7 linked regions of the Homo sapiens genome follow. The protein of the gene in region 3 purifies or fractionates together with the protein of the main gene of each other region. This does not show direct contact. Each region holds a gene or a part of one and is shown on either strand. Other genes may lie near its edges.

What was found.
Region 1: the proteins of SLC39A14 (region 3) and SLC25A15 purify together in Homo sapiens (affinity purification with mass spectrometry; one large-scale study listed by BioGRID and IntAct). This does not show direct contact.
Region 2: the proteins of SLC39A14 (region 3) and RFT1 purify together in Homo sapiens (affinity purification with mass spectrometry; one large-scale study listed by BioGRID and IntAct). This does not show direct contact.
Region 4: the proteins of SLC39A14 (region 3) and TMEM101 purify together in Homo sapiens (affinity purification with mass spectrometry; one large-scale study listed by BioGRID and IntAct). This does not show direct contact.
Region 5: the proteins of SLC39A14 (region 3) and EPCAM purify together in Homo sapiens (affinity purification with mass spectrometry; one large-scale study listed by BioGRID and IntAct). This does not show direct contact.
Region 6: the proteins of SLC39A14 (region 3) and LETM1 purify together in Homo sapiens (affinity purification with mass spectrometry; one large-scale study listed by BioGRID and IntAct). This does not show direct contact.
Region 7: the proteins of SLC39A14 (region 3) and C3orf33 purify together in Homo sapiens (affinity purification with mass spectrometry; one large-scale study listed by BioGRID and IntAct). This does not show direct contact.

Annotation. Positions count from the first base shown.
Region 1 is NC_000013.11:40,802,641-40,806,843, reverse strand, and holds part of SLC25A15 (mitochondrial ornithine transporter 1), read right to left. Parts: intron 1,727-4,203; coding exon 1,589-1,726; intron 1-1,588.
Region 2 is NC_000003.12:53,099,084-53,103,286, forward strand, and holds part of RFT1 (man(5)GlcNAc(2)-PP-dolichol translocation protein RFT1), read right to left. Parts: intron 4,184-4,203; coding exon of another isoform or gene 4,131-4,183; exon of another isoform or gene 4,112-4,130; intron 404-4,111; coding exon 298-403; intron 1-297.
Region 3 is NC_000008.11:22,373,355-22,377,557, reverse strand, and holds part of SLC39A14 (metal cation symporter ZIP14 isoform a precursor), read right to left. Parts: intron 1-4,203. UniProt on the Homo sapiens protein: Electroneutral transporter of the plasma membrane mediating the cellular uptake of the divalent metal cations zinc, manganese and iron that are important for tissue homeostasis, metabolism, development and immunity.
Region 4 is NC_000017.11:44,012,021-44,016,924, reverse strand, and holds the start of TMEM101 (transmembrane protein 101), read left to right. Parts: upstream 1-1,961; 5' UTR 1,962-1,972; coding exon 1,973-2,109; intron 2,110-2,387; coding exon 2,388-2,568; intron 2,569-3,769; coding exon 3,770-3,916; intron 3,917-4,688; coding exon 4,689-4,904. UniProt on the Homo sapiens protein: May activate NF-kappa-B signaling pathways.
Region 5 is NC_000002.12:47,375,247-47,379,449, reverse strand, and holds part of EPCAM (epithelial cell adhesion molecule precursor), read right to left. Parts: coding exon 4,151-4,203; intron 2,437-4,150; coding exon 2,373-2,436; intron 1,776-2,372; exon of another isoform or gene 1,680-1,775; intron 498-1,679; coding exon 396-497; intron 1-395.
Region 6 is NC_000004.12:1,821,391-1,825,593, forward strand, and holds part of LETM1 (mitochondrial proton/calcium exchanger protein precursor), read right to left. Parts: coding exon 4,174-4,203; intron 2,386-4,173; coding exon 2,254-2,385; intron 1,742-2,253; coding exon 1,598-1,741; intron 923-1,597; coding exon 791-922; intron 1-790. UniProt on the Homo sapiens protein: Plays an important role in maintenance of mitochondrial morphology and in mediating either calcium or potassium/proton antiport. Mediates proton-dependent calcium efflux from mitochondrion.
Region 7 is NC_000003.12:155,795,970-155,800,172, reverse strand, and holds part of C3orf33 (protein C3orf33), read left to right. Parts: intron 1-4,203.

The sequences.
Region 1 (4,203 bases), on a different chromosome or scaffold from region 3:
TCTTCTAAGCAGCCCTGCTCCTGTAGCAGCCAGAACACAGGACACTCTTTGTCTGACTCCCCTTCATGATTGAGGGCAACCAGGGCAGGTTTATCCCTGCTAAGAACAGGCCAAGAAATCACATACTCAGTGCAACTTAGTGAATCCCTCTCTCCTCACTTTGTTCTCAGCAAGAAGGAGACTTGGCTTGGACAGATGAAGGATCAAGTCCCAAGGTAATAAAGGCCACAGACATTTAAAAACTATTTTCCTTCTGAGAGCTTCAGAAGACACTGTCAGGTATTCCCCATCAGCCAGCCCTTCCTGCAGCACTGCTACATGGAATGTAACAAAGTAATCCAGCTCAACACAATTAACCTCCCTTCCAATCCGAGTCTTAGCCCCAAGCTACCATACCATGCCTTGTGTGAACACTGCTAGACCTCAAATACAAAGTCAACTGATAATTCAAGGTGTTGATCTGCCTAAGTCCTTTGGATATAACTATTACTATCTTTTAATTACCTTGAATTACTTCCAAGGAACATGAGGGCAGCTTTCTGGGTGTTGTTAATGTTCTATTTGTTAATCTGGACACAGGTTACAAAGGCACATAAATTGTGTCACTATTTATAGAGCTGCATACTGTGACTTCAATGTGCATTCATGATACTATGTGTATTATTTCAATAAAAAGTTTTAAAGACTTACACTCTTGGACTTCTAGGCAATGAATATTAGATTCAAGTTGGCTGTAATGAATCTCAAGGGTGCAGAAAATAGGGCACTTTTCCAAACCCCATTCTCACTGAGTGGGGACTGATCCTTGAAAATGGTCAATTTATCTACTGCTTTTTCCCAGCAGATTTATAGGCTTTGAGTTAACCACAGCAATATCCTTGGTCAGAACTCAGCCAGATGTCAAGATAAGTAAGCAAGTTTTGCAATTAATAAGGATAATAAATTGCTTTCCAATTCAAGTAAATCAAATTGTGTATGAAACAGTACTCTCAAAGGATAATGAGAATGTGTTTTCAAGAGTGAGCTAGAGAGTGATTTAATCACTGAAGAGTAGCTATGCTTATAAAAGTATTGATTAATGTTCTCAGAACTTGGGCCATCTGCAGGTACACTTGAAGGACTGGGGATAAGTGGGGTAAGAATAGTTACCTCTAGGATCTGGGTCAATCAGCCTGAATACCCATACGAAACCTGAAGTGGGGATCAAATATTCATCTCAGAATCCAAATTGGCACTTATGAAGGCTCAGGTCTAAGGCAAAGTTCAAAAGCCACCCATTATGTACCTCCAAAAATGGCTGAAGATCATGCCTTATGTTTCCAAGAGGCCAAAAAGGGTGTTAAGCTCCTGGCTTCTCCAGTTCTGGGGTATTAAATATCTGTCTAAGACTTTTTATGCAGTGGGTGGTGGGTCCCATCACAGCCAATCCTTTCAGAAAATCTCTGATAGGGGAAAGCATTCTAGAAACAATATTTTGGAGTAGATAAATTGGCTTCCACATCTGCCACTTTAGTACAATGTAAAATGAAAAATCATCCAATACACTAGGGCAATAGAGACCTGACGTTTGTGCCCAAGTGGTGCTTACTTCTGGCTCTTGGCTATCTTCCCTGATGTCTCCATCTCATACATGGTCTGCAGCCGGCACTTCACGAGCTCCGTGGGGCAGAGCACCAGTGCAGCAAAGGCAGAGGCGAAGGAACCGGCGGCTGCATTCTGCAGATCACTGAAAGCACACAAGCAGACAGTTACCCCTCAGTTTCTTCATTCCTTTGGCACTCACCACACAGACAGCACTTTGGTGATAAAGCAGGGTAAGGAGCCGGGCGTGAGGGCATGAACCTGTGATTACAGCTACTTAGGAGACTGAGGTGGGAGGATCACTTGAGCCCATGTGTTCTAGGCTACAGTGCTATGACTGCATCTGTGAACAGCCACTGCATTCCAGCTTGGGAAACAAAGAGAGACCTCCATGTCTAAAAAAATGATGAAAGGGCCGGGCGCCGTGGCTCACAACTGTAATCCCAGCACTCTGGGAGGCCGAGGCGGGCGGATCACGAAGTCAGGAGATCGAGACCATCCTGGCTAACATGGTGAAACCCTGTCTCTACTAAAAATACAAAAAAAAAAAAAAATTAGCCGGGCGTAGTGGTGGGTGCCTGTAGTCCCAGCTACTCAGGAGGCTGAGGCAGGAGAATGGCGTGAACCCAGGAGGCAGAGCTTGCAGTGACCTGAGATTGTGCCACTGTACTCTAGCCTGGGCAACAGAGTGAGACTCCGTCTCAAAAAAAAAAAAAAAATGATGAAAGGAAGGAAACTTGCATGTGCTGTTTCATCTAAGGATCCCACAACCCTATGAAGCAGACAGCAGCACCCCAGTTCCCTATGGGAAGTGACACTTAGAGATGACATAATGTGGCCAGTCACACAGCTACTAAGTGGCAGTGCTAGGATGTGAACCCAGGTCTTCCTGACTGCAACAACCATATTCTTTTGATTACACACAGCGCTATGGACTGAATTTTATCCCCCCAAGGTGATGGTGTTAGGAGATGGGGCCTTTGGGAGTAATCAGGTGTAGATGAGGTCATGAGGATAGGGCCATTGTGATGGGATTAGTCCCTTAGAAGAAGAGGCCAGAGAGCTCGCTCACTCTCTGCCATATGAGGACACAGTGAGAAGACGGCTATGTTCAAATTAAGAACAAGCCCTCATCAGACACCAGATCTGCTGGAACCTTGATATTAGACTTTTCAGACCATAGAACTGTGAGAAATGTTTGTTTAAGCCACTCAATCTGTAGTATTCTGTTACAACAGCCAAAGCCAAGATACATCGTGACATGACAAAATAAAACGCCACAAAAAAACCTAAAGGAAAGGAGGAAAATATTGCCCATAGTCCCCCACTGAAAAACATGCACTATTAATACTTCAGTGTGTCTGCCCTAAGTTTTAAATAAATCTAGGTTCTAAGCCTATCCCCACATGCCCACAATCCAACCTGGAGCAACCAGATGTGCAATGTAACTGCCACAGATGAAAACCCAGAAAAAACGTTTAACCAAAAGTTGCTGCATCACAAAAAGATTTTCCAGTTCAACTGGTGACCTACCACCTCAGCAACACAGACGAGGGTAAAATGGTGCCACAGGAGTGGGTGAAGCCAGTACAAGTCTGCAAGCTCAATGGTATTAGGTGAAATTGCTAAACTGGAAATCTAAACTAGGCAGAGGGATGAATGCACAAATACAAAACAGAAGCATTCACCTCATGTATGGATTTAGTACCAGCAGCCAAATGTCACCAGCAGGGTTGTGAAACTGGAATCCAGTAAGAGTTCAAGAATATGGGGAGGCCAGGCGTGGTGGCTCATACCTGTAATTCCAGCACTTTGGGAGGCCAAGGCAGGCAGATCAGTTGAGGCCTGGCCAACATGGCAAAACCCCGTCTCTACTAAAAATTAGCCATGCCTGGTGGTGCACGCCTGTAATCCCAGCTACTCTGGTGGCTGAGGCACAAGAAGCGCTTGAACCAGGGAGGCAGAGGTTGCAGTGAGCCAAGATCATGCCACTGCACTCCAGCCTGGGTGACACAGTGAGACTCTTTCAAAAAAAAAAAAACGAATACGGGGAAAAGTCTGAGAAGTGTTTCAGAAGAAAGGCTTCTCTGCGAGTTCCTGGTTCATGGGAGTTGGGATAGAAGATCCCTTCCAGCCCTAGAAGAGTGTTGTGTCATGGGATCATGACTGGCATTTGGGGGTAGGACAATCCTTCATTGGGCAGGAAGGACTGAACTGGTTCCCTGACACCCATTCAATGCCAGCATCATGCTCTCACTGGACAGCCAAGATCACCCTCAGAGATTTCCAAAAACCCCTAAGGGTGGGTGGGAATCTCCTCAGCTAACTACTCAGGTAGAGATATAATCCCCTAACAATTTTTCTCCAAACTGTGAGCAAAAGCACAGATGGGGCAGGGCACGGTGGCTCACACCTGTAATCCCAGCACTTTGGGAGGCCGAGGTGGGCAGATCACGAGGTCAAGAGATCAAGACCATCCTGGCCAACATGGTGAAACCCCATCTCTACTAAAATACAAAAATTAGCTGGGCATGGTGGTGGGCGCCTGTAGTCCCAGCTACTCGGGAGGCTGAGGCAGGAGAATTGCTTGAACTGGGGAGGCGAGGTTGCAATGAGTTAAGA
Region 2 (4,203 bases), on a different chromosome or scaffold from region 3:
TGTCTGGTGCCTGACTCTGCAAACCTGGACTAATGTAACCTTTCAGAGCCGATGTTTCTTCCTCCACAAAGGGGAGGCAAAGAGTAGTTGCTGCCTCCCAGCCCTACAGTGGGGAGCACTTGCTGAACCATGCTGGTGCCACAGAGATCCCAGGGGAGCACCACACTGGTGGACTAAGTGTTGCCTCTAAAACAGCCATCTGTAAATGCATGTTCAGAACGAAAAGCAAAAAGCTTGACAAGTTATTTCATTTTGGCTGAAGGCCATGATTAAAGGTGTACCTGCTAGGTTACCCACCTGTCGACCTCCTCTTTGCTCATGGCAGCAAATGTGAAACACTCTGTCACTCCATTGATGGCAAGCAGGAGAACATAGAGACAGTAGGAACGCAGCAAAACAGGACCTACAAGGAAACAACTCACTGAGACTCCAGAGCCCAATCAGAAGGCCCACATGTACCCTCAGTGCTGCTGAGTACCCAGAGAACCAGAACCAGACTATGAGGTCTGCTGGTATCAGCAATGGGCAGACTGCATGCTAGAGCCCAGGGTCTTAATAATCTAGAAGGATTCCCAACATTCTATGGCATTGACTAAATAATCAGCAAAAAACAAAATGACAGGCTGGGCACGGTGGCTCACACCTGTAATCCTAGCACTTTGGGAGGCCCAAGGCCAGCAGACTGCTAGAGCCCAGAGGTTAGAGACCAGCCTGGGCAACATGATGAAACCCCGTGTCTACCAAAAATACAAAAGTTAGCTGTGTGTGGTGGGCATGCCTGTAGTCCCAGCTACTCGGGAGGTTGAGGTGGGAGGATCACCTGAGTCTGGGGAGGTCAGAGCTGCAGTGAGCCATGATAGTGCCACTGCACTCCAGCCTGGGTGACAGAACAAGACCTTATCACACACACAAAAAAGAACAATTATGAATAAATGTACAGATCTCTTGCTGGACAACTAAAAGCTTATCTGGCTAGCAAGCAAGTCTGTTCCCTTTTTTCATCAGCATGAATAGGCCTGCTGGTTTGGACTCAAAGTCAGTAGTGACCCTGCATGTTAAGGGAATCTCAGTTGAGCAGGTCCTGAAGAAAAGACCTTTAACAAAAGCCAGGGGCCCAGGACCAGCAGAAAATTACACAAATCCAAAGTGAGAACCAGTGCCCATAATAGTATTTTCTTCTAAAACAAAGTAATGCAGTTCTATAGCTAACAAGCTTCGGAAAAATCTTCTAAGCAGAGAACAGGAGGCTTACAAATGGGATTGATTCCCCCCTTTTAAGAGGGCCATAATCAAGCACCTAATAAAATAAACAAACACCTAACCTACGACCCAGCAATTGCACCCCTAGGTATATATCCAACAGAAATGAACACACATGTTCACAAAAACACTTACACAAAAGCATCTGTAGCAGTTTGATTCATAATAGCCAAAACTGACCATCAACAGAAGAAAGAATAAACAAAACGTGGGCCATCCACACAAAGGAATACTTAGCAAGAAAAGATAATAAAAATCACTGATCCATGCGAAACCATGGAAGAATCTCAAAAACTTTATATTGAAGGAAATATGCCAAATGCAAGAGCGCACATGCTGCATTTCATTGATATAAAATTACTTTTAAAAGAAATACTGATCCATGGTGATAGAAATCAGATTTCTTCTGATTTCTCTTTGTCTCTGAGGTGGAGTGGGGTAGTTGACTAGAAAGGGTCCCAAAAGAACTTTCTGGGGAAATGGAGATATTCTATGTCTGAATCTGTTTGGTAGTTACATGGGATTTTTTGTACATATTTGTCAAAACTTACCAAACTGTACTCTTAAGAGAACAGCATTTTACTTTATGTAAATTATACCTCAACAAAGGGAGAAAAAAAACTCCCAAAAAAAACACATAACCACTGAAAGAAAAGGAGGGGGACTGAAGTTCCGGAGTCTCAGAATCTGGAACTCATTCAGGGTTTATGAAAGCTGTTTAATACAAAAGATCTCCATGCTGTGGGACCCCTAAACAGTTTTATGGCAGTCACAAAATTATAAAAGGAATACTAACAGGGCAGCCCCGACGCTCAACAAAAAACCGTTTTCCACGGCCCTGTCTCAGATTCCATGTTTATCACCTCACATTGCATTTTGCTTGTCAAGCCGCTGCAGGAAGTAGCCTGGCCCCCACCCCAGCTGACGGTGACTCCAGGAAGGGAGGCGGGGACCAGGCTCTGCACCCGGGAGGCTCAAGGCTATGCTCAAGTGTGCCTCCTGCTTCTCCCCAACCTCCTCTCCCTGGCAGAAGCAGAGAAGAGTGGGGGGCCTCCTTACGTGGTAACTGAACGCTAATGGCACAGGAGGGCCCATCAGTAGGTGAACAGTGGGCTGTCGTGAGGCATGGAGAACACAAACTCTGGCACCAATCAGTGACTCACGTAAAGGGTTTTGTGTCCATTTGGGGAATTCAAGAATGGAACCAACCTTCGATTGTAGACTGAATTGAGGGGTGTTTTAAGTTGAACTGTCCCCCCAAAATAGATATGTTAATGTCCTGACCAGTGGTACCTGAGAATCTGTCCTTATTTGGAAACAGGGTGTTCATGAAGAAAACTGAGTTAAAATGAGGTCATTAGGGCAGGCCCTGATCCTATATGACAGGTGTCCTTATAAAAAGGGGAAACTTGGTCAGGTGCAGTGGCTCATGCTTGTAATCTCAGCACTTTGGGAGGCTGAAGGGGGGCAGATCATCTGAGGTCAGGAGTTTGAGACCAGCCTGGCCAACATGGCGAAACCCCGTCTCTACTAAATATACAAAAACTTAGTCGGGTGTGGTAGGGTGTGCCTGTAATCTCAGCTACTCGGGAGGCTGAGGCGGGAGTCTCTTGAACCCGGGAGGTGGAGGCTGCAGTGAGCCGAGATCACACCACTGTACTCCAGCCTGGGTGATAGAGTGAGACTTCATCTCACTAAAAAAAAAAAAAAGTGGGGGAAACTTGCATTGAGGCAGACACGTGCAGGGAGATGATGACGTGAAGAGCGCAAGGGGGATGATGACGTGAAGACAGAGAGAACACAGCCATGTGACCGCAGTACTGCAGCTGCAAGTCAAGGAACGCCAGGATGCCAGCAACCATTAGCAACTAGAAGAGGTAGGAAGGGGCCTCTCCTCGAGCCTTCAGAGAGAACACGGCCCTGGCCATAGCTTCATTGTGCACTTCTGGCCTCCAGAACTGACGGACAATATGTTCTGTTGTTTAAAGCCACGCAGTCTGTGGTACTTTGTCATGGCAGCCCTAGTTCATTAAGACAAGGGGATAGAGAAGGAAAAAAGTAAAAGGCAGAGGGACAAGAGAGAAGCACCTAAGAGAGAAATGTAAGAAATCTTGGGGAAATTCTGTGAATGTGTGGGTTTTGCTTAAGGATAGAAAAGCTAGGTGTTGTTCTGTGAGTTACCAAGAAAAAAGAAAAGAAAAGAAAAAGCAAAGCAAAGCTAGGTGTGAGAAGGATTTCTAAGAAAAGCCTCTAGAACACTTACAAAGACCCTAATTAAATGCAGGGCTAATCCCAAACAACGGAAGAGAAGCCACACCCCTACACAAAAGCCTGTCCGTGCTGTGTCCGAGTCCCACATCTGGAGATGGCCAGTACAGCTCACAGGTAAGTAGTCCACTTCCAGGGTGAAGACAAAGACAAGTACACAACTGGGGACAGCAGTGTTGCGAGTTCCACTTTCAAAACTAAGATGATGGGCTGAGTCATGATAATGATGGGACAGCCCCCTCCTTGAGGCAACGCCCTGTGATTGTGTGACATTAGAGGCTGCTCCTTGGTGATTGCTTTCTAAAGGGGAAGAGCTGCTACAGAATAGTCGAGTTCCCAATCTCTGCCCATAAACTTACTAATGCCTTCCTCATGAGGCCTCCCCACAGCTGCCAGATGGAAATACACTTCTCACAGCACAAGCCCCAGGGAGCTGCAAACCACTTCACTGGTTTCACAGCAGGTGTTTCTCCAAACTTAATGACCTTTGCTCTGGTATAGAAACCTGGCCCTTCCTCCCCTAACACCAAAAGTTTGGGCCCCATTGTAGTGGAGACTAAAACATGCTAGTGAACTTGTAAAATGGCATTTGACAAAGCCCTTTATATTGAGATGGGGCAGCAGAAAGAAGTCCTCAGCGTTCTTGTCCAGCGACCTGAGAAATTAAAAACATCT
Region 3 (4,203 bases):
TCAGTACAAACTCATATTCTTTAGCATACATATATACAGATAGGTGCTGAATTATCTGTTTCCTAGCTTTGTCTGCTGAGAGGACCCAGAAGCAATGATAACTGCTGTAGCAATGAACATACCTAGCAACCAGACCTTGGTTTCTAAACAGCATTCTCCAATAAAGGAAAGCAGGACTCCGTGGAGAAGTGCCTGACTCTAGGGCTGGGGCAGCGAAGTTACAAGATGAGCCTGGAATATTTTGTAGTAAAGGAAATTAAGGAAACACTTAAAAAAAAAAATGGCAGGGGCTTACCAGAAGAACACAGGAGACAACCGGAAGGAGCTCCCAAAATGGTCAAAGCTAGAACAATTTGAGCCTCAAAAAATATTATTCAACTTTAACCCACAGAACAAAATCTGATTATGAATAACCAAATGCATAAATAAATGGGGAAGCAGGGCCAGCTCTTGCTTACAAAGAATTCCAATAAATAAATGTACAAGAGGGAAATAGAGAATCATTAGTCAAACATCACAGTCATCATTGTTGCAAGCAGGGTCTACAGATGGGTGCTAAAATTAGGGGATGAAAGTACAAGGAGAAACAGGATTTGCATAGTCTCAAAGTATCTCCTGAAACTACAAAGGGAAAGAAAGATAACTTCTTCAGTTTATCCATTCAGTATTTTTTTTTTCCCCAGACATTGTCTCACTCTGTTGCCCAGGCTGGAGTGCAGTGGCTCCATCTCAGCTCACTGCAGCCTCCACCTCCCAGGTTCAAGCGATTCTCCTGTCTCAGCCTCCCGAGTAGCTGCAATTACAGGTGCATGTCACCATGCCTGGCTAATTTTTGTATTTTTAGTGGAGATGGGGTTTCACCATGTTGGCTAGGCTGGTCTTGAACTCCCGACGTCGGCCTTTGCCTGCCTCGGCCTCCCAAAATGCTAGGATTATAGGTGTGAGCCACCGTGCCTGGCCCCATTCAGTTTTTGTAAAACAACAACAACAGAAAACCCACCTTTTTTCAGTGTGGAAATCAAGCAGACACCAGCCAATCTAGATAAATGTCACCAGTAAAAAAATACTCCAACATGGCCGAGTGCAGTGGCTCACGCCTATAATCCCAACACTTTGGGAGGCTGAGGTGGGTGGATCACTTGAGCTCAGGAGTTCAAGACTAGCCTGGACAACATGGTGAAACCCTGTCTCTACTGAAAATACAAAAAAAAAAAAAAAAAAAATTAGGTGTGGTGGCTCATGCCTGTAATCCCAGCTACTTGGGAGGCTGAGGCAGGAGAATTGCTTGAAACTGGGAGGTGGAGGCTGCAGAGAGCCGAGATCACACCACTGCCCTCCAGCCTGTGCACTGAGTGAGACCCTGTCTCAAAATTAACAACAACAACAAAAAACTGTGACATGATGAATACCTCTAAAGGATGCAACATCACTTTGCGTTCCAACATTCTAGCAAGAAAAGAGGGAGAGACTGCCACAGATTGCAGCAAACTAAGGAGAAATAACTAAACAGTGTGGGATCCCATATCAGATCCTGGAAACAGCAAATGGACATTAGTGAAAATATTGGTGACGTTTAAATAAGGCCTGCAGTTTAGTTAACAGTGTTATGCCAATGTTGATTTCCTGCTCCTGATTATATAATTATACTCTGGGGTGAGGAATATAAAGGAATTCTGCTATATTTTTGCAACTCTTCTGTACATCTAAAATTAGTTCAAAAGAAAAGTTTAAAATAAAAGGAAATGGTTAAGCAAACTAAGATACAGCCATGGCTGGGTGCAGTGGCTCATGCCTGTAATCCCAGCACTTTGGTAAGCCAAGGCGGGTAGATCACCTGAGGTCGAGTTTGAGATCAGTCTGGCCAACATGGCGAAACCCCACCTCTACTAAAAACACAAAAATTAGCCGGGCATGGTGGTGCATGCCTGTAATCCCAGCTATTATTAGGGGGCGCTGAGGCAGGAGAATTGCTTGAACCTGGGAGGCGGAGGTTGCAGTGAGCCGAGATTGTGCCACTGCACTCCAGCCTGGGCAACAGAGTGAGACTCCGTCTCAAAAAAAAAAAAGATACAGCCATAAGGCAGAATAAATGCTTAGGGAGAAATTTTGATGTCGAGGTAAGATGGGTGTAGATAGCCAATTGTATCCCCTCCCCCCAAAAAAAAAACAACTGTAAGGAAATATGCCAATATGTAAAGAGAGACTGCAGCAGGATTATCGACTTTCCCCCAAATACTTTTTTGCACTTTACAATATGCATGCATTACTTTTAATAATCAGAAGGAAATAAAGTCGACAAAAATACCAAACAATTGTTTGGGGGAATTCTGTGTATAGTTAATCACATCTATTACAGTTTCTGGGAGAGACTTCTAAGGGCTGTGTTCAGACTGGAAAGGAGGCTGCTAGATGCTTCTGAGGGCTAAGGAAGGTGGCAGGAGGCTGGAGGAAGTGGACTGGTACAGAGGACATGGACGTGGGGCCATGGAGTTGCTCCAGATAAGAGCAGGCTGGCCAGGCGCGGTGGCTCACGCCTGTAATCCCAGCACTCTGGGAGGCCAAGGCGGGTGGATCACTTGAGGTCAGGAGTTCGAGACCAGGCTGGCCAACATGGTGGAACCCCATCTCTACTAAAAACACAAAAATTAGCTAGGTGTGGTGGTGTGCACCTGGAGTCCCAGCTACCTGGGAGGCTGTGATGGGAGAATCGCTTGAGCTCAGGAGGGGAGGTTTCAGTGAGCTGAGATCATACCCACTGCACTCTAGCCTGGGCAACAGAGTGAGACCCTGTCTCAAAAAAAAAAAAAAAAAAAAAAAGAGCAGGCTGGCAGGCTGCACCCCAAGACAGAGGGCTGCTGGCAAGTCTCTGATATGGAAACAGCTCTGAGTTCCAAGAGAACACTCGTACCTTAGACACCCGAGCCATTCAAGACTCCTAGACCCAACGTACATTTCCAGCTACCTCACTTGCTGCTCCCTCTCAGCCACTCTGGGCCACGTGTACCATCCCACCAGCATTCACACGGCTCTCCTTACCAGGACCCTGCTCTCTCTCCCGCTTCCTAGCTTTCAAGATGTGGCTCAGTCCCTCCCCAAGAAGCCTTCTCTGTCACCTCCTGCCACTCCCTCCTCTGGCCTCACCCAGTACCCCTCCTCTGTTCCACTTACTGCAGCTTCAGGAAGGCCATCCTGCATCTGACTTTCCACACATGCATAGCTCCTCACACATTTCACAAGCATCTCGGGAATGGAGATGGTACTCAGCAGCTCTCTTAGCTGAGCGCCACTGGACTGCTCAAGGACCCCAGGTCTCCAGTCCCTCCCTGCAGCCAACAGGCCCCTCGCCAGGTGGCCAACCTCCCCCCAACCCCACCACCTGCTGTCACCATTGAGGGTTCCCATGCCAACAGCTGTGCCTATTCCCAAACCTCTTTATGCAGGTTCTATTTATTTAAATGATTATGATTTATTTAAATAACAACTGAGGGCTGGGCACGGTGGCTCACGCCTTTAGTCCCAGCACTTCAGTCCCAGCACTTCGGGAGGCCAAGACCGGTGGATCACTTGAGCTCGAGTTCGAGACCAGCCTGGCCACCATGGCGAAACCCCATGTCCACTAAAAATACAAAAAATTAGCTGGGCGTGGTGGCGCGTGTCTGCATCCCAGCTACTTGAGAGGCTGAGGCAGAAGAATCACTTGAACCTGGGAGGTATAGGTTGCGGTGAGATTGCGCTACTGCACTCCCGCCTGGGTGACAGAGAGACACTCTGCCTTGGAAAAAAAAAAAAAAACGAGAAAACAAAAACAAAAAACCCTGAAGAATAAATGCAAAGAAAAATGTCTGACTTCTGAGAAATTTAAGCTAAGTGATCTCGAACAGTAATTCTGAAATTACTGTCTTATATGACACCTGGGGTCCCTGAAGTAAAAGACTATTTTTATTCTAATATACAAAAATTAAAAGCTTTTCACTCTCACTTTTCAGAAGCTACATGAAATGTGACACGTACCTGTGTCATCTTGAGTCTTTGAGAAATTTCTAAGGTAGAAGTTTAGGGTATAATATAATATATAGGTGGTCTCAGAGATTAGCTCAATTTGTTCTCAGAACTTTTAACTGACTTCTTAACAGCAAATTTAAGTTACACCTATTATAACCTGTTATCTCATTATCATCCAATAAATAATTATTTTAAAATCCT
Region 4 (4,904 bases), on a different chromosome or scaffold from region 3:
CTGACCTCGTGATCCACCCGACTCGGCCTCCTAAAGTGCTGGGATCACAGGCGTTAGCCACCGCGCCCAGCCCAACACCTTTTCATTTATCTGTACAGCACATATTTCCTGAGGGCATCCTGTATACTAGGTCCTGAGGGCATCCTGTATACTACAGATGGTTCCCAGCATTGGAGTTTTCAACTTTACATTGGTGCGAAAGCAGATCTGCATTCAGTGGAAACTGTATTTCTCTTACAATGCTGGGCAGTGTCAGCAAGCCACAGCTTCCAGTCAGCCACACATTTTCAACTTACAGTATTTTCAACCTATGATGGGTTTATCAGGATATAACTCCATCACAAGTCAAGGAGCATCTGTAAACAGTAAACAGAAACCCAGGCACCGTGTTTGTGCTTAGGGAGCTTGCGATCTAGTAGGGGAAGATTGTCAATAAAACAATCACAAATATATTGGCTGGGTGCGGTGTCTCACGCCTGTAATCCTAGCGCTTTGGGAGGCCAAGGCGGTTGGATCGCTTGAGGTTAGGAGTTCGAGAGCAGCCTGGCCAACATGGTGAAACCCTGTCTCCACTAAAAATAAAAATTAGCCGGGTGTGGTGGCAAGCGCCAGTAATCCCAGCTACTTGGGAAGCTGAGGCAGGAGAATCGCTTGAACCTGGGAGGTGTAGGCTGTAGTGAGCCAAGATCGCACCACTGCACTCCAGCCTGGGTGACACAGTGAGACCCTGTCTCAAAAATAAAAAAAAAGCATATATATGTAAAGCAGATATATATATATGTGTGTGTGTGTGTGTGTGCGTGTGTATCTATATCTATCTATCTATCTAATTGCCACCGTGCCAAGTGATTCAAAGGAAGGTAGCTGATGTTATGAGAACATATAAACGGGTGGGGCGTGGGAGAAGGGGCTGAGAACACACTGGAGGGGAATGCAGAGACCACCTGGATGTCTGCTGCAATTAAACTGACAAAGTATGACAATTTGGGTTACAGCGGGAGCATGGCAGCTGGAGAAATGGACTGACTTGAGATGTCCCAGATGTTCAGATCTCCTTTTTCTCTCAGGGCACAGGCAAAAGGCAAACCCAAAGAGGTGACTTTGAGCCAGGAGGACCCCTTACTTTGATCTTAACAGAAACGGGGGTTTCCTCTGGTGCGTTATGTGTATCATTTATTGAACCACTACTATGTACTAGGACCGACCTTGTCACATTTAAAGTTCACAACTCTGGCCTGGCGCGGTGGCTCATGCCTGTAATCCCAGCACTTTGGGAGGCCGAGGCGGGCGGATCACGAAGTCAGGAGATCGAGACCATCCTGGCTAAGACGGTGAAACTCCGTCTCTACTAAAAATACAAAAAATTAGCCGGGCGTGGTGGCGAGAGCCTGTAGTCTCAGCTACTCAGGAGGCTGAGGCAGGAGAATCGCTTGAACCCAGGTTGCGGAGGTTACAGTGAGCCAAGATCGTGCCATTGCACTCCAGCCTAGGCGACAGAGTGAGACTCCGTCTCAAAAACAAAACAAAACAAAAAAAAAAGAAAAAAAAAGTTCACAACTCTGAGGTAGGTGTAATTATCCCCATTTCATGATGAGTCTCATAAAGTTTAGGTGATGTGCCCAGAATCACACAGGGTTGGAATCAGGATTAGGGCCCTGATCGGGCTGCATTCAAAGACCAGTTTGCTTCAATACATCATACTACGGTCCAAGACTTCTGCTATCCTGAACCCACTGTTCCTTCCTCTAGTCTAGTTTTCAAATTCGCAGGGACAAATATGGCCCTGAAGGCTCCATGAGCAGACGAGAAGGCTGGACTTCGCAACTGGGTCACCTTAGATCCGGAACTAGAGAATGACACCGTTGTTTCCGGGAGGAAAAAGAAAAAGCGCTTGACCCGGAAGCTGCGTGTCCCATCCCCGCGCCTGCTTCTCTGACTGGGGTGAGGCCGCAGCGGACTGCCCTTTCCCAAGATGGCGTCGAAGATAGGTTCGAGACGGTGGATGTTGCAGCTGATCATGCAGTTGGGTTCGGTGCTGCTCACACGCTGCCCCTTTTGGGGCTGCTTCAGCCAGCTCATGCTGTACGCTGAGAGGGCTGAGGCACGCCGGTGAGCAGGCCTACGCAGCCGCTAAACGCGGCAGGGGGCGGTGATGTGGGCAAGAAATTGGGGGCTAGAAGTCGGGACCCTTGAACTGGGAGGAATTGGGACCTCCCTGGGAGGGGTTCTGGTCTGGGTGTCGGACCAAATCTGGTAGGGCGGTCCTGCCCATGGGAGGGGAGTCTGGTTTGGGGGAGCAGTGGAGCCTGTGGGAACTCAAGGGGTCTCAAGCTTCTTCCCCCACCGCTTCATTCTGTCCTCGTTGCTTCCCCACTCCCGGCTCGCAGGAAGCCCGACATCCCAGTGCCTTACCTGTATTTCGACATGGGGGCAGCCGTGCTGTGCGCTAGTTTCATGTCCTTTGGCGTGAAGCGGCGCTGGTTCGCGCTGGGGGCCGCACTCCAATTGGCCATTAGCACCTACGCCGCCTACATCGGGGGCTACGTCCACTACGGGGACTGGCTGAAGGTGAGCGCCTCGGCCCCAAAAGGGTCTTCCCTCTGGGTGACGGGGAATCAGAGGCCAATGCCCAGGGCTGTTGGTGGGCGATGAATGGTGCTGGCCAGCTGCACAGTGTGAAGCCTGGGAGGTTCGAACCCCTTGGCTTATGGAGATTACAGAGCGCAGAAATGGATCTTAGAGACCACACAAACTTCCTCTTCAAAGTGTGGAAACTGAGGTCTAGAGATGGGAAACAGACTTTCCCAAAGCCACAATACAGGATACTGGTGGGACCAGAACCCCGGTCACCTGGTTCCCAGAATCTTTTAAACTGTTAGTTTAGTAATCTCAGACTCATGGGGTACAAAGGACCTTGGAGAGTACCTAGTTTTCATAAAATAAATTTTATGAAAATGTAATTACTGTTAGTATAGCATTTAAGCCAGAACCTGTGCCAGGCCCTGCAGGCTGGAGATAAGGTTGGACAAAGGCACTGTCCTTGAGGAAGAGACTGTCAGACCCTTAGGGGAGGAAGATGTGTGAACAGCTACAGGGCAGCAAGATCAATGTTTTTGTGGCATAGATCCCATGCCATGTAGAATAAAGAACACCAAGATTAGAGTCTACAGATCTGAGAGTGGGGAAGGGAGAAACACATTGTGTCTGGGTTCTGCCACTTACTGGCAGGTAGGACCTGCCAGTTTTCTTTTTTGTTGTTGTTTTTTGAAACAGAGTCTCTCTCCGTCGCCCAGGCTGGAGTGCAGTGACGCTGTCTCAACTCACTGCAACCTCCGCCTTCCAGGTTCAAACGATTCTCCTGCCTCAGTCTCCCAAGTAGTTGGGATTACAGGCGCCCTTCCCCACGCCCGACTAATTTTTGTATTTTCAGTAGACAGGGTTTCCTCATGTTGGCCAGGCTAGTCTCAAACTCCTGACCTCAGGGTGATCCACCTGCCTCGGCCTCCCAAAGTGCTGGGATTACAGGCGTGAGCCACTGCGCCTGGCCAGACCTGACAGTTTTCTTAACCCTCTGGGCCTCAGTTTCTACTTCTATATATATATAAAAAGAATGATCTGTCTCTGTTGCACCTGCCCACCAAGCTTGGAAATGTAAGAGGGTTCATCAGATGGAATGGGATGTGTAGAGAGGGGTGGTTCTACACTCTGGGAAGCCAGGAGAGATGTGGCGGCTGCAGTTCTTGACTGGGGTCCCCTTACCCCGGCCTAGGTCCGTATGTACTCGCGCACAGTTGCCATCATCGGCGGCTTTCTTGTGTTGGCCAGCGGTGCTGGGGAGCTGTACCGCCGGAAACCTCGCAGCCGCTCCCTGCAGTCCACCGGCCAGGTGTTCCTGGGTATCTACCTCATCTGTGTGGTATGTTGGGGGACTGTTGGTTGGAGGTGCCTGGCTGGGAGTGAACTGTGAGTCTAGGCATGGCAGAACCCCAGGAAGGTAGACACAGAACGAGGCCCTGAGTGCAGTTCCTGATGGCCCAGTTCCCTGGGAATTGCCCTGGCCAGCTTCTAGGCCTCAGGGGCCCTCCAAATGCCTGTTGAGAGGCCCTTCCTCCAACAGTGTTGCCACGAGGTAGACTGGCCATTAAATTTCAACCCTGAGAGCCAGGAGAACAAGATGGGGTGATTCTCTCATGGCTCCAGCCCCCAAAGGACTAGAAGGGGATAAAGGAGAGGTTTGGTGGGGGTCAGGCCCCAGCTGGGACTCTGCCCCCTAGAGCTGATGAGAGCTCTAGGGTAGCCACTTATGGTTCTCCCTGGTGCTAGGGGAGGCCAGGGTGACTGGAGACATGGACAGGCGCCAGGCCATTAGGTCTTATCTTAATTACCGAGTATATCTCTGTACAGCTCTCTGTGTGGGCTCCCATATTCAGAGGTGGGAGCTCTAGTCTGACTGTGGAAATACACTTCCTTCATAGCCCCTAGGGTGAGGGGAGACATGGGCCCTAATCTCCTGGGGCTCCATAGTCCGAGGGGGAGACAAAGGCCCTACTTTCAGAGGTTCCCCAGTCCAAGAGGGGAGTCAGAAGCCCATCTGCAGGGACTCATTTGCAGGTGCCATCTCAGGGGTGGTTTACCCCAGACAGGCTTCTGAGCCTGTTGGAGAGTCTTAGAGGATGTTATGTCTCCAGGCCTACTCACTGCAGCACAGCAAGGAGGACCGGCTGGCGTATCTGAACCATCTCCCAGGAGGGGAGCTGATGATCCAGCTGTTCTTCGTGCTGTATGGCATCCTGGCCCTGGCCTTTCTGTCAGGCTACTACGTGACCCTCGCTGCCCAGATCCTGGCTGTACTGCTGCCCCCTGTCATGCTGCTCATTGATGGCAATGTTGCTTACTGGCACAAC
Region 5 (4,203 bases), on a different chromosome or scaffold from region 3:
TCATATTTCAGCAGAAAATACCTCACTATAATATATTAAAGTTTCAACAAAATATTTTAATCATATCAGTTACAGTCTTTTTTAACAGACTTTTATTTGTGTAAATTATAAATATCATAGGGGAGCATATATGCACAAACTAAGTAACCACCAAGTAGATAATAAATAAGAATTATAAGAAAGAGGGGAGATATTTTAGGCAGAACAATTTGATAAGAGGCATAAATATACAAACAAGCAAGATGCATGTGAGTGACAGGGAGGACAAAATTAACGGCAGCAGCGAACCATTTGGTTGATCTGTAAGTGGATAAAAAGGTGATGAAATATATTTAATTCATTGAGGCATGATAGACTACATTCCTGAACACAGGAATAAAGAAGATGATACTCACATCTTTTTCAAAATAATAAGCCACATCAGCTATGTCCACATCATTCTGAGTTTTTTGAGAAGAATTTTGAACCAGATCAATAGTGATAACATTATTCTCATACTGGGGAAAAAAATTGAATAATACAAATTAATACTAATATAATCAAAATCATTTGAAAATAACATTAATTGAGAATCAGAATATTCAGTGTTTGATTTTCTATAATCTACATGCATCACTGTTCCTTTCCATTAGTGGATAACTAAGTTTATCACTAATCAAGAAATCTTTGGGAGGTCTCTAAATCTATCAAAGGGAAATAAGACAGCCATGCAACCAAACATAATTACAATGTACAATTTTTCCTAAGAGGATTTTCTTATATTGAAAAGATTTTTAAATAAGATATGAAAGTATTTTATTTGGATTAGAACTACTTTAAAACTAAATTACTAAAGAAATGAAAGGTAAGGCCGGGTGCAGTGGCTCATGCCTGTAATCCCAGCACTTTGGGAGGCTGAGGTGGGCGGATCACCTGAGGTCCGGAGTTCAAGACCAGCCTGACCAACATGGAGAAACCCCATCTCTACTAAAAATACAAAATTAGCCAGGCGTGGTGACACATTGCCTGTAATCCCAGCTACCAGGGAAGCTGAGGCAGGAGAATCGCTTGAACCTGGGAGGCAAAAGTCGTGGTGAGCCGAGATGGCGCCATTGCACTCCAGCCTGGGCAACAAGAGCGAAACTCCGTCTCAAAAAAAAAAAAAAAAAAAGAAAAGAAAAAGAAATGCAAGGTAAAACGCAGCATGCATTTTCCATGTTGTTTTTTTGTTTTGTTTTTGAGACGGAGTCTTGCTGTGTCGCCCAGGCTGGAGTGCAGTGGCACAATCTCAGCTGACTGCAAGCTCCGCCTCTCAGGTTCACGCCATACTCCTGCCTCAAGCCTCCCGAGTAGCTGGGACTACAGGTGCCCACCACCACATTCGGCTATTTTGTATGTTTTTAGTAGAGACAGGGTTTCACTGTGTTAGCCACGATGGTCTCGATCTCCTGATCTTGTGATCCACCTGCCTCGGCCTCCCAAAGTGCTGGGATTACAGGCGTGAGCCACCGTGCCCGGCCATCATTTTGTTTTTAAAGAGTAAAAAAAGTACATTCTTTCTAAAGACTCTTGAATAAATTCATACTACCTTTAAAGAGTTCCGTCACACTATTCAAGCTTCTTTTTATTTTTTAAACCAGAGTTTAAAGAGTTAAGTAAGGGCTAACTAGTTAAGGACTAGTTCCTTAAAGCAGAGAAGATGGGAGCTCCAGTAACATCCTAAAGTAAATATGCACCAAAACTGTATTTACCAAAAGTAATTTTGGTGCATATTTACTTTAAGATGTTACTGGAGCTCATCCACAGGGACAGGTTCTCCAGGATAAGAAAACTCAAATGTTTTAGGGATACTAAGAGATACTACGTTTTCTTTAGGAGTAAAACTAGGCTTTTCAAAGGCTATGGAAGGAAAACAACGATAACCAAAAACAATGGGCCGGGCGTGGTGGCTCACACCTGTAATCCCAACACTTTGAGAGGCTGAGGCAGACAGATCACTTGAGGCCAGGAGTTCGAGACCAGCCTGGCCAACATAGCAAAACCCCGCCGACACTAAAAATACAAAAATTAGCTGGGCATGGTGACATGTGCCTGTAGTCCCAGCTCCTCGGGAGGCTGAGGCATGAGAATTGCTTGAACCTTGGAAGCAGAGGTTACATTGAGCCGAGATCTTGCCATGACACTCCAGCCTGGGGAAGAGAGCAATAGTCTGTCTTAAAGAAACAAACAAACAAAAAAAAACAGTAACAGGAAATTCACATTAAGTACCCAGATCCGAAACTGTTGCTCCAGTAAGTGCATTTAACCACCACTTAAATCACTGGCTGTCCTTATACTCAAAACATACTGTCTCACCAACTGTCTGCTAAAGCTCACTTATTAAAAAATCATACCAAAATACTCGTGATAAATTTTGGATCCAGTTGATAACGCGTTGTGATCTCCTTCTGAAGTGCACTGTAAAGAATTTAAAATCTGTATTAAAAAAAAATGTTTGTACCACACAACAGTAAGAAGCACTACTCTTTAAGCAGACAGCTCAGGGTCTAAAACTGTCATTAAAGTTAAAATTTTTCTGCCATTTTGCAACTATCATAATAATAATTGATTCAGGCTGGAATCATCCATTGATATTCAAACTGCTGGGTACCAGTTTAATTAGAAAAAGAACATTTACTTAGTATCCAAGTATCTGCCCATAGATTATTTATGGATTACAAAGGGAGAATGGTAACTTCACAGTGGAAAAACCTGGTGGATACCACTTTAACCAAAGTTTACTTTACTAGTAAAGGGACAAGCTGACATCATGCAACTCCTAATGTGAAGTATTATAAAGGACACAAGATCGCTTAAGTAGTTTTCCTGTCAAAAATGCATAACCTGCTTTTAGTTAAGAGGGAACATCAAGGCTCGGGTGAGGTGGCTCATGCCTGTAATCCCAGCACTTTGGGATGCTGAGGTGGGCAGATCACCTGAGGTTGGGAGTTCGAGACCAGCCTGACCAACGTGGAGAAACCCCGTGTCTACTAAAAATACAAAAAAAATTAGCCAGGCATGGTGGCGCACGCCTGTAATCCCAGCTACTCAGGAGGCTGAGGCAGGAGAATCGCTTGAATCCGGGAAGCAGAGGTTGCGGTGAGCCGTGATTGCACCATTGCACTCCAGCCTGGGCAACAAAAGGGAAAACTCCAACTCAAAAAAAAAAAAAAAAAAGGAGGAAATATCAGACAAATCAAAATTTGAGGGACATTATATATAATGACTTGCCCATGCTCTTTAAAAATAGCAAGTTCATGGAAGACAAAGAAAGGCCAAGAAACTGTTCGATATTAAGAGACTAAAGAGTCATGACAACTAAATGTGATACATGGATCTTGGACTGGGTCCTGAATCAGAGGGGAAAAATTACTACAAAGGACAATATTGGGAAAATGGGCACAACGTGATATAACGTTAAATTTCCTGGCCGGGCGCGGAAGCTCACACCTGTAATTGCAGCACTTTGGGAGGCAGAGGCGGGAGGATCACAAGTTCAGGAGTTCGAGACCAGCCTGGCCAATATGGTGAAACCCTGTTTCTACTAAAACTACAAAAATTAGCAGGGCGTAGTGGCAGGCACCTGTAGTCCCAGCTACTTGGAAGGCTGAGGCAGGAGAATCGCTTGAAACCGGCAGGCGCAGGTTGCAGTGAGCTGAGATCACGCCACTGCACGCCAGCCTGGGTGACAGAGCGAGACTCCGTCTAAAAAAAAAAAAAAAAATTTTTCCTAAATTTGATCGTTGTATAGTGGTTTATATAAAAGAATGCCTTTTGTTCTTAGGAAAACATACACTGAAGTACTTAGGGGTAAAGGGGCCTGATGTCTACAACTTGCTCTCATGTGCTTCTGGGAAAAATATTTATACATGCATAGATACACTGATGTAAAGCACACACACATATTCATCCACACATACACATATAAAAAGCAAATGTGCCAAAATGTTAATTGGTGAATCTGAGTGAAGTGTATTCCCAGAATCTCTGTGCTATTCTTGCAACTCTATTTCAAGTAACTTTATTTTTCAGAAATATAAAAAAGCATTTAGACTTGCTTTTTCTAATGGTGTAGGATGGAAGATTTGAGCCACCAACTGTGCAAGAATATGATGCATTTAATTGCACTTACGTCCGCAAACTTTTACTATCATAAGGTTTTTCTCTTGCTTTGTGTTTTAGTTC
Region 6 (4,203 bases), on a different chromosome or scaffold from region 3:
CAAATTTTTTTTTTATGGCTGGGTGTGGTGGCTCACACCTGTAATCCTAGCACTTTGGGAGGCTGAGGCGGGAAGATCACTTGAGGTCAGGGGTTTGAGACCAGCCTGGCTAACATGGTGAAACCCCCTGTCTACTAAAAATACAAAAATTTGCTGGGTCTGGTGGTGCACGCCTGTACTCCCAGATATTGGGAGGCTGAGGCAGAAGAGTTGCTTGAACCTGGGAGGCTGAGACTGCACTGAGCCGAGATGGCGCCACTGCACTTCAGCCCGCGAGTTCAAGATGGAAGGTACCAGGAGGCGCCCCAGGTAGGCAGCACAGGCGCCTGGAGGCTGCACCTCACAGGCTCGCATGGGGAGTCTGAAGATGCTCCAAGCCCAGATCACCCCACAGGAGGTGACAGCAGGTTGGGCCTGTGGAGGAGGCTCTACCTTGAGGGGCCACATTGGCTTCCACACCCCTTCACTGTCTGGGCAAGCTGGCAAAGGGCCCTGAAACCTGCCGACTGGCATCTCTACCTGCCACACTGTGGGCCAGGGTGCTAAGTTCACGGCAGCGTCAGCTGCTGTGCACCCAGGCACAGTGCGGAGCCCGGCCGGACTCACTCTTTTCCTAACCACCAAGCCTCCTAGGGGCCCAGTGGCCTCATCCTCAACCCCTTGCACCATCTCCTCTCACTGAGGGCTATAGATGCCCCAGCTAACCTGTCCCCATCCCTGCCCCACAACTGTCCACAAAGCCAGGCCATGCCCTCCTCAGCCTCCAGGGCCCCAGAACCTGCCTCATTACCTTCAAGCCCTCCAGCACCGGGGCAGTGTCCTTCAAGGTCTCTGACTGCAGGACTGTGTCAGGCATTTCTGGCTGTGGCTCGGTCCCCGGCCTTTGGGGAGCAGCTACCACACGTTCGGGCTCAAAATCCTTCTGAAAGGCAAGGCGACACCAGCCCAGCGCCCGCCATCACACAGAAGCAGTCTTCTTGCTCCCCGAAGCTCAGAACATATGGCAGAGGCCACACTGGGAGCAGGCCTGCAGGTGACATTGGGCAGCACACCTGCCACAGAAGGTCCCTAGGGAGGCTCCATGCAGCTGCCAGGTCACCTGGGGCCCTCTCCAGAACAGGCTAGAGCACCTTATCCATCTCTGGTCTCCCCAAGACTCCCCCAAGCTGCCCTGTCACTTGCAGAGCAGGAGGCTGAGCCTGTGGGTGGGCACCATGCATGTGACCCAAGAGGACCACAGGGCCCGCGTTGAAGAGGAGCCCAGAGGCTGGGGGAGCCTGCAGCTCCTCTGCCAGCGCCCCTCACAGCAAGTCCCTGAGGAGAGGGTGGGCACTGCCATATGCTAAGCTTGCCCCTCTGAGACGGCTAAGGTATATCTCCCATGAGCACCACTGTGGCCATCGGGGAGTCCCCATGTCAGAGTTGCAGCCCTCACACCCGGGCACCCTGCCTCCCTGACCACTCCAGGAGGAAATAAACATGCAGGACAGAGCTGCAGGGCAAGCATGCGGGAGGCCAAGACTGTGGGCGTGCGGGGGTTTCTAGGGAGGCTGGCTCAGGACAGCCCCACGCGGCACGGAGCAGGACCACCGCTTACCGCCACCTCCGAGCGCTTCTGCAGCTCCTTCTCACGGTGCTCCTGCTGGATGGCCGCCTCCTCCTGCAGCGTGGCCTCCAGCTTGGCCTTGTTGTCCACCTGCTCGCCCTCCACCTCGGCCACTTTCACCTGTGCTTCCTTTGCCTTCAGAAGAGGGTACATCTGTGGGTGAGCCCAGAAGCCACCAGAGGCCCCTGCTGCCCCTCACCTCTGTCCTGTGTCCTGTGTCCCCTGCCCCGTCACCACCTGGGCTTCACACACACAGGACAGAAGGCACTGCCGAGGTGCTGCCCGCAATTGCTGGGAGGCCCCTGGGCCGCCCTCTGCGCTCGCCCGATGACTCCTGACATGTGGGAAGGAGCATAGGCGCTGCTGACACAGCTCCAAGGGCCGCGGCCCAGATCCACAGCAGCCAACACGTGGCCAGGTCGGGACCACTGGCAACTGTGCCACACGGGGGATGGCAGGCAAGGGGCTGGTGAGGAGGGATGGAAGGAAGGGGACAGGTGGCTGGGTGGGGGCACTCGCGAGGGGGTGGGAGGCAGGCTCCTCGCCCATGGTTGAGGAATGAGTGCGCTTGCACACCTCCCCCCACCCCAGAAGAGCGGAGCCACCTATGAAGAGATGAGGTAAAAGGGGTCTCCGACAGCACGTACCACAATCTCTGGGAGGGTCTGCAGTGTGGACTTGAGCTGGTCGGCTGGAGAGAGGGTGTCCGGGAGGTACATGGCCCGGGACAGGATGAGCAGCGATGTGGGGATCTCCTGATGCAGGTGCAGGTCCAGCCACTGCAACCAAGGCCAGGTTCAGCAGATGGGCAGCCCCCCAACCCTGCTGGCCCCACAGCAGGTCCGCCCATCTCATCACCAGAATAGCTCTCAGAGAAGACAGTGTCTCAAGTTCTACAAGGTCTGTTTGTTGCTGTGCTGCGTGACCCGATGACGGCGTTAGTAAACAAAACACCAGAGAGGCTTGGGGGTCAGCAACCCCCACAGCGAGGACCCCAAGGGCCTCAGAACAGGGCACCAACTCTTCACTTAAAAACACCCCAGGGGCCGGGCGCGGTGGCTCACGCCTGTAATCCCAGCACTTTGGGAGGCCGAGGTGGGCGGATCACCTGAGGTCAGAAGTTCGAGACCAGCCTGGCCAACATGGCGATCCCATCTCTACTAAAAATACAAAAATTAGCCAGGTATAGTGGTGTGCACCTGTAGTCCCAGCTACTTGGGTGGCTGAGGCACAAGAATTGCTTGAACCAGGGAGGCGGAGGTTGTTTCAAGCCGAAATCGCGCCACTGCACTCCAGCCTGTGTGACAGAGCAAGACTCTGTCTCAAACAAAGAAACAAGACCAGCCCAGGTCAACATATACGGGCCCGCAGAGGCAGTGTCACTGAGGCCGGTCAGCACTCGGGCCCTTGCAGGCTCTGCACAGGCCAGGTTCCGGGGCTGGCTGCTTGAGTAACACCAAGACAATCTCCAAATGGGCAAGAAAGACCGTGACAATGTTTAGAGACAAACTGAACACGGGGCAAAACATGAGAACAAACCCTAAGAGAAGAAAGGCAACGCTGAGGAGAAGTGGGTAGAGAAAATATGAGAACAAACCCTAAGAGAAGAAAGGCACCACCGAGAGGTGGGTAGAGAAGGAAAAGTGTGAACACATGACACTCGGGCCCCCAATGCGCCACACTCCCCTGGGGGCCGAGGGGCCTGGGCAGGGACAGCACCTGCCCCCCTGCTCAGACACCCCTGTGTGTGTGGCCCATATCCCCACGGAGCTCCAGAAGGCTGGGCAGAGTGCTAGGGAGGTCAGCACCCATGCCAGACACAGAGAAGGCTCTGCTGGGGAATCCGATGGAAGACGCGGCTGTGGAAGGCAGGGGGTGCCACAGGATCACGCCATAAATACTGTCTGTGTCGAGAGGAGAAGTGTGTACACACACCTTCATCTACACTTGCAGGTTGTGTGAAAAACCCGGGAGGAGGATGACTGCCAACAAGGGCATGCCAGTGCCAGGGCACCGGGAGGAAACCGGCTGGAGCCCTGCACCCCTTAACCTTTCCATGTAAGAGTGAGTGGCTGGGGCTGTCACTTTCCGACCTACAAGCCACTCAATTTGATGGCATTGGGAACCAGGCACCAGCACAGGGCGTGGCCAAGAGAAGGGGCGGCTCCAAAGTCAGACCGTGCCATGCCACCCAAACCTTCCATGGCCCCAGTTCAGAAAGAGTCAAAATGTGAACACGTCCGACATCTCAGAGGTGAACTCCAGTCCTCATCTGACTACAGATAACCAAAATAGTAAGTTATTAAGGTCTTTAAAATCAACTAAAAGCAAACAAGAAAAATCAAAGCAATATTCAAAAGGCAATGAAAGGTGCGAATGCAGGGGTGTGAGTGCGGTAGGAGCAGAAGGGCGAGAAACAGCCCAAACATCCTGGCCGTCCCCAGAGAGGTCACAGTGTCGCCTCGCCAGGCCGGCCCAGAGTTTGGGAAGAGCCTCCGAGTGGCCTTTCGAGGCTGATGTTTCCCTTGAGCCCGTGCCGGCCTGGCACCAGGCCAATATTCACGCACCTGCTTCAGCTGACCCCTCAGGCGGTCTTC
Region 7 (4,203 bases), on a different chromosome or scaffold from region 3:
GATATTTTGATACAGGCATACAGTCCATAATAATCACATCAGAGTAAATAGGGTATTCATCACCTCAAGCATTTCTTCTTTCGTGTTGCAAACAATCCAATTATGTTCCTTTAGTTATTTTAAAATGTACAATAAATTATTGTTGACTGTAGTCACCCTGTTGTGCTACCAAATACTAGATCTTATTCATTCTATTTAATTATATTTTCATACCCATTAACCAACCCCACTTCTTGCTCATCCCCAGCTACCCTTCCCAGGTTCTGGCAACCATTATTCTACTCTCTGTCTCCATGAATTCAATTTTTAAATTTTTTAGTTCCCTCAAATAAGTGAGAACATGCAAAGTTTGTCTCTCTCTGCTTGGCTTACTTCACTTAACATAATGACCTCCATTCCATCCATGGTGTTGGAAACAACAGTTCTGTTTAAGGATGAATAGTATTCTACCATGTATATGTACCATATTTTCTTTTTTCTTTTTTGAGACAAGGTCTCACTCTGTCACCCAGGTTGAGTGCAGTGGTGTGATCATGACTCACTGCAGCCTTGGTCTTGCGGGCTCAAGCGATCCTCTCATGTCAGCCTCCTGAGTAGCTGGGACCACAGGTGTGAGCCACCATGCCCAGCTAATTTTTGTACTTTTTGGAGAGACAGGGTTTTGCCATGTTACCCAGGCTGATCTCCAGCTCCTGGGCTCAAGTGATCTGCCTGCCTTGGCCTCCCAAAGTGCTGGGATTACAGACATGGTCCACTGCACCCAGCCCACATTTTCTTTATCCATTCGTCTGTTGATGGACACTTAGGTTGCTTCCAAATCATGGCTATTGTGAATAGTGCTGTGATAAGCATGGGATTAAAGGTATCTCTTTGATATACGGATTTCCTTTCTTTTGGTATATATCTAATAGTGGAATTGCTGGATCATATGGTACTTCTATTTTTAGTTTTTTGTGGGGCCTCCAAACTGTTCTCCATAACGGTTGTAATAATTTACATTTTTCACCAACAGTGTACGAAGGTTTCCTTTTCATCCTTGCCAGCGTTTGTTATTGCCTATCTTTTGGATAAAAGCCATTTTAATTGGGATGAGATGATATCCTATTGTAGTTTTGATTTGCATTTCTCTGATGATCAGTGATGTTGAGCACCTTTTCATGTACCTGTTTGCCATTTGTATGTCTTCTTTTGAGAAATGCCTATTGACATCTCGTGACCATTTTTAAATGAGATCGTTAGATTTTTTTTCCTGTAGAGTTGCTTGAGCTCTTTATATAATCTGGTTATTAATTCCTTGTCAGATGGATGGTTTGCACATATTTTCTCCTGTTCTGTGGGTTGTCTCTTCACTTTGGTAATCGTTTCCTTTGTGGTGCAGAAGCTTTTTAACTTGATATGATCCTGTTTGTCTATTTTTTCTTTGGTTGCCTGTGCTTATGGGGTATTTTTCAAGAAATCTTTGCTCAGTCCAATGTCCTGGAGAGTTTCCCCAATGTTTTCTTGTAGGAGAGTTATAGTTTGAGGTCTTAGATTTAAGTCTTTAATGCATTTTGATTTTATTTTTGTATATGATGAGAGAGAGAGGTCTAGCTTCATTCTTTTGCGTATGGATATCCAGTATTCCCAGCATCAGTTATCAAAGAGACTGCCCTTTCTCCAACTTATGTTCTTGGCACCTTTGTTGAAAATGAGTTCACTGTAGATGTATGGATTTGTTTGTGGGTTCTCTATTCTGTTCCATTGGTCTATGTGTCTGTTTTTATGCCAGTACCATGCCATTTTAGTTACTATAGCTCTTATAATTTGAAGTCAAGTAATGTGATTGTTCCAGTTTTGTTCATTATACTCAGGATAACTTTGGCTATTCTGGGTCTTTTATGGCTCCATAGAAATTTGAGGATTGTTTTTTCTGTTTCTGTGAAGAATGCCATTGGTATTTTGATAGGGATTGCATTGAATCTGTAGATTGCTTTGGGTAATATGGGCATGTTAACAATATTGATTCTTCCAATCCACCCATGAACATGGAAAATTTTCTCATTGTTTGTACCCTTTTCAATTTATTTCATTAGTGTTTTATAGCCTTTTTTTTTTTTTTCTTTGAGACAGACACTTGCCCTGTCACTCAAGCTGGAGTGCAGTGGTACAATCTTGGCTCACTGAAACCTCCACCTCCTAGGTTCAAGCAATTCTCATGCCTCAGCCTCCCAAGTAGCTGGGATTACAGGCATGTGCCACCATGCCCGGCTAATTTTTGTATTTTTAGTAGAGACAGGGTTTCACTATATTGGCCAGGCTGGTCTTGAACTCCTGGTCTCAAGTGATCTGCCCACCTCGGCCTCCCAAAGTGCTGGGATTACAGGCATGAGCCACTGTGCCCAGCCAGTGTATTATAGTTTTCGATGTAGAAATCTTTCACTTCTTTGGGTAAATTAATTCCTAGGTATTTAATTTTATTTCCAGATATTGTAAACGGGATTACTTTCTTGATTTCTTTTTCAGATTGTTCACTGTTGGCATGTAGAAATGCCACTGATTTTTATATATTGATATTGTATCCTGCAACTGTACTGAATTTATTTATCAGTTCCAATAGTCTTTTGGTGGAGTCTTTAGGTTTTTTCGAATACAGATCATATCATCTGCAAACAAGAAAAATTTAACTTCTTTTTTTGCAGTTCAGATGCTCTTTATTTCTTTCTTTTGTCTGAGTGCTCTAGCTAGGACTTCTAATACTATATTGAATAACAGTGGTGAAAGTGGGCATCCTTGTCATAGTCTAGATCATAGAGGAAAGGCTTTCAGTTTTTCCCCATTCAGTGTGATACTAGGGCTGCGGGTCTGTTGTGTATGGCTTTTATTGTGTTGACGTATGTTCCTTCTGTAGCATTTTGTGAGGGTTTTATCATGAAGGAATGTTGATTTTATCCAATGCTTTTTCAGCATCTATTGAAATGTTCATGTTTGTATGGCTTTTGTCTTTTCTTTGAGATGGAGTCTCTCTCTGTCACCCAGGCTAGAGTGCAGTGGTGTGACCCCGGCTACTGCAACCTCCACCTCCAGGTTCAAGCAATTCTCTTCAGCCTCCCAAGTAGCTGGAATTACAGGCACCCACCACCACGCCTGGCTAATTTTTGTATTTTTAGTAGAGGCGGGGTTTTGCCATGTTGACCAGGCTAGTCTCGAACTCCTGACTTCAGGTGATCTGCCTGCCTTGGCCTCCCAAAGTACTGGGATTACAGTCATGAGCCACCATGCCAGGCCTGTCCTTCATTTTGTCAATATGATGTATCACATCGATTGATTTATGTATGTTGAACCATCCTTGCATCCCTGGGATAAATCCCACTTGGTCAAAGATCTTTTTAATATGTTGTTGAATTTGATTTGTAGGTATTTCTTTGAGGATTTTTGCATTAATGTTCATCAGGGATATTGACTTGTAGTTTTCTTTTTTGATGTGTCTTTGTCTGGTTTTGGTATCAGGGTAATACTAGCCTTGTAGAATGAGTTTGGAAGTATTCCCTCTTCCTCTATTTTTTGAATCATTTGAGTAGGATTGGTATTTATTTTTCTCTTAAACGTTTGGTAAAATTCAGCAATGAAGTCATTGAGTCTTGGGCTGTTCATTGCTGGCAGAGTTTTTATTACAGCTTTGATATCATTACTTTTTATTATGGCTTTGTTTTCATTACTTGTTGATCTGTTCAGGTTTTGGATTTCTTCATGTTACAATATTGGTAGGTTGTACATGTCTAGGAATTATCTATTTCTCTAGGTTTTCCAACTTATTGGCATATAGTTGTTCATAGTAGCCTCTAATAATCTTTTGAATTTTTGTGGTATTGGTTGTAATGTCTCCTTTTTCATTTCTGATTTTATTTATTTGAGTCTCCTCTCTTCTTTTCTTAGTCTGGCTAAAGGTTTGTCGGCTTTGTTTATCTTTTCAAAAAAGCAACTTTTCATATCCCTAATCTTTTGTATTCCTTCACTGCAATTTCATTTATTTTTGCTCCAATCTTTATTATTTTTTTCTTCTACTAATTTTGGGTTTGGTTTGCTCTTGCTTTTCTAATTCTTTTAAATGGATTCCTGTTTGCTTTTCTACTTTTTTGATGTAGGTGCTTATAGCTATAAAATTTCCTTTTAATATTGCTTTTGCTGTATCCCATGGGTGTTGATATGTTGTGTTTTCATTATTAT